Linked DNA regions of Homo sapiens. The protein of the gene in region 2 purifies or fractionates together with the protein of the main gene of each other region. This does not show direct contact. Each region holds a gene or a part of one and is shown on either strand. Other genes may lie near its edges. The genes, in order: NUP35 and RAB23.

What was found.
Region 1: the proteins of RAB23 (region 2) and NUP35 purify together in Homo sapiens (affinity purification with mass spectrometry; one large-scale study listed by BioGRID and IntAct). This does not show direct contact.

Annotation. Positions count from the first base shown.
Region 1 is NC_000002.12:183,130,658-183,134,492, reverse strand, and holds part of NUP35 (nucleoporin NUP35), read right to left. Parts: intron 3,499-3,835; exon of another isoform or gene 3,376-3,498; intron 928-3,375; coding exon 870-927; intron 1-869. UniProt on the Homo sapiens protein: Functions as a component of the nuclear pore complex (NPC).
Region 2 is NC_000006.12:57,188,809-57,191,551, forward strand, and holds part of RAB23 (ras-related protein Rab-23), read right to left. Parts: intron 1,793-2,743; coding exon 1,653-1,792; 3' UTR 1-1,652. UniProt on the Homo sapiens protein: The small GTPases Rab are key regulators of intracellular membrane trafficking, from the formation of transport vesicles to their fusion with membranes.

The DNA.
Region 1 (3,835 bases), on a different chromosome or scaffold from region 2:
AGCCACTTTTATGTTTGTGGTAGTTTGTTATGGCAGCAACAGAAAACTAATACATTACCCTATTTAAAACTCTAAGTCTCTACCCCCTCCCCCCCTTTGCTGCTTAATTTTTTCCTCCACAAAATGTAATACCTTCTAACAAATGTTATAATTTACTTGTTTTGTTTATAAATGTAAATTCTGCAAATAAATGTAAGTTCCATAAAGGCAGGGAATATCTATTTTGTTTACTATTTCCCAGAGTACACAGTTAGGTGCTCAAATATTTGCTGAATAAACATTTGATGGGATTATACACATATGACGACATATGAAGAACTGTGCTAAGCATAATGATGATTATTAAAAAGCCATTAATCTTAAAGAAAAACTAGGTATATAATCAGTGGTTGCTTCTATTCAACGGCATTTAGATTTATAACTATGCATTAACATCTCTCAAAACACCTTTATTATTCAGTGTCTTAACTATTCCTTTTCATCCCAATTCCAATGGCTTTTTTATTGACAAGTTTTAATAACTAAGGAGATACTTCAAACATCTATTAAGTATACAATTTCTTAAAAAGACATTCTGAATATTCACCCCACCATACCTTTAGGGTGATTTGATTCAGAAAATAATCAATATACAAAGTATTTCCTTCCTGAAAGAAGTTATAGATTTTGGAAAATCTCCAAGTTTGAAATATAAAATAAAAAATTTTGGCAGTTACCAACAAACATTTTATATTAAATTCATTCGAAGAATAGAGAAGTATTTGGTGTCAGAGTTGTTTACTCCGTGATCACACCACTGCACTCCAGCGTGGGTAGCAGAGCCAGACCCTGTCTTTTAAAAAAAAAAAAAAAAAGAAAGAATCACTTACCTGTTCCAGGAGTAGATGTAACTCCAACAAGAGGACTCTGCATTACTGAAATGTTTGGCTACACAAACAGAAGAAAGTGTTATGGTAAAAATGCAAAACATAAATACAGTAAGTGTTAAAAGGCTTCATTCAATGGATAACTGAATTTTTATCATGTGCTAGAGATGCCTCTAATTAGCTCAAAGTACAAAGGCACTCTTTTTTCCCCATAAGTTAAACAGTATTAACCTAAAATTTACTAGATCCCTTAGTATTTGTTTAAAATAAGAAAAGTCATATTATGTTAAAAAAAAAAAAAAAGACTATCTTCTGTAAAAGGTGACATGTTAACTATTTGTTTTTAGTTTCTAATGTACAATATTTGAAATAACAGAGATAATGGTAATTTTTAAAATGACCAGGTTCATACAGAAAAACAGAAGGGTGACAAAATTTGATTTTCAACAGATACTTAGAAACCATGAAACACTATAGATTCAAATCAGTCTAAACAATAAAAGACAGCATATCCCTACCACTACCAGTAGAAAGTTCCAAAACTGGTAAATTATCCATTTTAGTTCCTTTAAATATAAGAAAATTAAGGATTAAAATAGTTTAAAATCCTTCTAAAACAAAGACAATATCCAATCAATAAATGAGAACAGAATCTCTCTAGAACTCAATAAAGATTTTTTAAAACAGATTCTAATTAAACTAAGGAAATCTCAAATAGCTTCATTTAGCAACCAGAACTAAATGCTGAGAGAATGTTGGGAGAGATATAAAATTTATTCCTCAATTATTAATGCCAATTCTTTCATGATTAGAAAGCAAACTGAGCAAATTCCAGGGGGCATAACTAATTTGGGCTCTAATCTAGCAATAATATTCTTACCAACTTTCAAATCAAAAACATTCTCTATAAATTATGACCCACGAGTCTTTCAAACATTTTGAATACAGCAATATCTGTAAGCCTTTGTCTGTATCATCAGAGAAGTAATAAAACCTTGCACAAATTTAGAAGCCAGTGGTTCTTGCAACAAACAATTTTTTAATTTTTTAGTTTTTATTATTTTATTTTTGAGACAGGGTCTCACTCTGTCACCCAGGCTGAGTGCAGTAACACGATCACAGCCCACTGTAGCCTGAGCTTCCCAGGCTCAAGCAATCGTCCCACCTCAGCCTTCTGAGTACCTGGGACTATAGGTACACACCACCACATCTAGCCTTTTTTTTTTTGTATTTTCAGTAGAGACAAGAGTTTCGCCATGTAGCCCAAGCTGATCTCAAACTCATGGGTTCAAGCAATCTGCCCAAAGCCCAGCACAGTGGGTCACACCTGTAATCCCAGCACTTTTGAAGGCCAAGGAAGGTGGATTACTTGAGCTCAGGAGTTCAAGACCACCCTGGGCAACAGGACAAATCCCATCTCTACAAAAAATACAAAAGTTAGCCAGGCATGGTGGTCCACATCTGTAGTCCCTGCTACTAGGGAGAAGAGGTGGGAGGATCACTTGAGCCCAGGATGTCGAGGCTACAGTGGGGCATGACCATTTCACTGCACTCTAGTCTGGGTGATAGAGCAAGACCCTGTCTCAAAAAATAATAATAATAAATAAAAATACATAAAAATCAAGCAATCCGCCCACCTCGGCCTCCCAAAGTGCTGGGATTACAGGCATGCACCAACACGCCCAGCCTTCATACCAAACTAATCATAAGCTTTACTTATCAACCTTTAGAAAACCATCCCAGACCAGGATATCTATCCATTAGGAACAATAAATTCCATACGTGTAATTTTACCATTTCTAGTAGGCACATTTTAAAAGTACAAACAGGTGAAATTTAGTAATATTTAGCCAAACACATCCAAAACATTATCATTTCAATATGTAATCAACATAAAAAAATAAGATACCTTACATTCTTTCTAAGTCTTCAAACTCTGGTGTGTATTTTATACTTAAAGTGTATCTCAATAAAGACTAGCTATATCTTTAGTATCAATAGCCACACTTAGCTAGTGGCTCCTGTTGGACAGGAAGGCAGGTCTAGAAGTGTTGGGAAGAAACAGTAATCTGTTTACCACAGTGAATGAATTTTGCTTTACTTGACAAGTAAGCCTAGTATGCCAGACATATCAAGCCTATAAATAGCACGAATCCACTGAAAAATGCTTTCTAATATTCTTGAACTCTCAACTTCACTAAATACAATTTAGGGAAAGGCATAAAACATATATCTAAAGCAAACAGCAGACATATCTTTATATAAAGAACTTACCAACTTAACTGATAAACTTTGTTTATATGTCCTACTAAGCACAATAATAATAGGAAACAACACTTGTGTCTATGAAGCTACTAAATTTTCTACTTAAAAGAAAAGTCGGCCAGGCACAGTGGCTCACATTTATAATCTAGCGCTTTGAGAGGTCAAGGTGCAAGGATCACCTGAATCCGGCAAGACCTCATCTCTACAAAAAAAAATACAATTAGCCAGGCATAGCAGCACGTGCCTATATCCCAATAGGACAGTTGAGGCAGGAGGATTGGTTGAACCCAGGAGTTCAAGGCTGCAGAGTTATGACTGTGCCGCTGCACTCTAGCCTGGGCAACTGATCAGGACCCTGTTGGGGACCCTAAAAAAAGAAGAAAATAAAGACAAGTCCATACTACTTCTCAGCTGACGAGTGCCCTAGATCTAGATGAAACTCTAAATTTTCATTTGTTCTTTCACATAATTTTTAAATATTAAATATTAAACTTCTTAAACAATCAGAATGATTTAAACCATAGTCACATTCTACATGTATATTAAGTAGGTTGGAGCTATGGGCAGGTGGATAAGGCATACCTATAAACACCTGAGAATTACCTATGAGAGAAAATCTAGAGTTCTACACTGTTAAGTACAGTTCATCATCAACACAATTTAAGTAGATTCTATGATGTGTTTAATGTTTATTCTGTGCAACA
Region 2 (2,743 bases):
CCATCTAAAATGGCAAAGAGAACATTTACTTTTGATCACTTAACAAGGACACACCCAGGAAATTTGATTTTCTCAACATTAGGAGGATGAGGGGAGTACAGATGGAAAAACAAAAGATAAAACACAAAAGGAGTACATAAAACATTGTTTAGTACAAATAATGAAAAATGACTTCATGACATTTTCCAATAAAAGTTATTTTTACAGATTTTGCAATGCTGTAAAAACCAGGTATATTGAAAGGGGTTATTTATAGGTTAAAAATAAAGCCATTGATGAGTGATAATCAGTTTTAACAGAGTTCACGCAATTATCTTAGCTGGAAAGCTACTGTCCCAAGTGACAAAATTTATGTCCTGACACATGATTACATATTAAATCATTTTGTAAAAGAAATGATTCTGTATGTGGGACTGACAGCTCTTGAGAAAGTGCTATACAAACAAGGTTATAGAAATGTTGAAGTGATTGATAATCTTAAAATACCATACAAAAATGTGTAAACAAAAGGATGGTTTAGAGTTGCAGGGCATTATAAAATATGTAATTTTAGTTAAGACTAATAATAATATTTTTGTGCACTTTAAAAATGGTTAGTGTAATCTTGTAAGTTCAAAGCTGGGTTCTCAGTGAGCAGCAAAAGGTGTTAGATGCATCACCACACTTCACAGGACCTCCTGAATGACTGCAGATGTGCTGTGTACCTTCTTAAGGGGCTTTGGCTGACCTTATGAGAGCAGGAGCTCACCATGCTTATGGGTGACTATATCAAAAAGATCTGCAATAAGGCTCACCTGGGAGATGCTCTAGCATTCAAATTCCTATACTCCTCTTTTATCTACGCTGTCAGATGAAAACTGCTTACTGCTTTTAAAAGATATAATAAACAATATAAATTCTGATAGTAAAGCACTATAAAAATTAGGTATGATATTTTTGGCACAAAGCACTTTTTAAACCCAAGCTCATTTTGCAAAATATATGTCTAGAGTTTATCATTTGAAAATAAAAACATATACACAATATGTAAATGGTTTTATAAGTGAATTAATTAGAATGTACATTTTCTTAAATACTGCACATACCTTCAGCTTACTCCAGTACCAGACATCTGCATGCACACCCCACATTCTACATTACACAGATATTGCACAAGTTTCAATGCCAAAATACTAATGCAGTCTGGCAAGATTTAGGGTTTACCTTTCAGTATTATTTTGTGAAAGTATTCAGATTCAATACTATTTCGCAGAAAAGCTACATGACCAATTTCAGGAAAAGAATGCTTGCTATCTTTCCTTGATCCACAGTATTAAAATCTGTAACAATATATTTAGGCATTTCATTTATGTTTTCCAGCATTTAAAATTCCGCAAAACCTGTGTTTGAAATTTCTTATAGCATTCCTTTACAAACAGGAGAAGCTTCGTCTAATGTAAAAAAAATTAAAGGAGTCCACAGGGCAATAATTTTTCCACCAGAGGTCTCACTCTACATTCTGAAAAGCACTGCAGAGCAATATTTAAGTCTGTCACTTTCAGAGAGCCATTAGGAGCAAAGTCTGCTGAAAACCTTGTAACATACCATGACAGCTGGATGGGTTTCTTAATGCATTGCACAATGTAATTCAATTGTTTTCCTCCCAAAACATCTTAGGGTATGCTACAGCTGCTAAAAGGATTTCTGTTTTTCTTGGTCCTTTGTTTGTTGGGTCTAAGATTGATGACATCTCCACCATTGAGGGTACCTGAATTCTGACCGGAGTGACTTCCACCAGATGTATTAAAGACACCTGTATAAATTGAGGGAAAAGAGTGATTGCCACTGACACGCCTGAGTTACCTGTTGCATCCAGCTTGTTAGTAAAATCAGTAATATTTTCAAGTATTTACAGTTTCTCTAAAATTGTAGTAAAATCCAACAAAATTTAGCATCTTAACCATTTTTAGGCATACGGTTCAGTGGTATTAAATACATTTGTAATGTTGTGGAACAATCACCCCCGTCCATCTCCATAACTCTTTTCATCTTTAAAACTGAAACTCATACCCATTAAACAGTAACTAACTCCCCATTCCCCCTCCCTGCAGACCTTAGCAACCACCATTCTATCTTCTGTCTCTTATGATTTTAACTACTCTACCTTATATAAATGGAATAATAGTGTCTTTTTGGGACTGACTTATTTCATTTAGCATAATGTCTTCAAGGTTCATCCAACGTAGAACACTGAAGCATTTCCTTCCTTTTTAAGGGTGAATAATATTCCATTGTATGTATATACCACATTTTGCTTATCCTTTCATACATCAATGGACACAGATTTATGATTTTAAAGCTCTTGTTTTAGTTTTACTTTTAGTAGCTAATACGCATGGTACAAAGTTCCAAGGCTGTAAAAGAGGTCACATTAGGGCTCTTTTTTACCCAGATTTTCACCCCTTGCCAGTTTTCCCACCCCTAAGGTACGCATGTTATTACTTTTCCTACTTATCCTTCCAGATATAGTTTATGCATATATAAGCTAAAATGCATATATATTCTCTTTTCTACCTAAGTTGTGGCATATTCTACACAATGTTCTGCATCTTTTGACTTAACAATTTATCTTTGACGTTTGGAATCAGCAAATACGATAATTTTTATTTATTTATTTTTTGAAGACGGAGTCTCGCTCTGTCGCCAGGCTGGAGTGCAGTTGTGTGATTTTGGCTCACCGCAACTTCCGCCTCTTGGAGTCAAT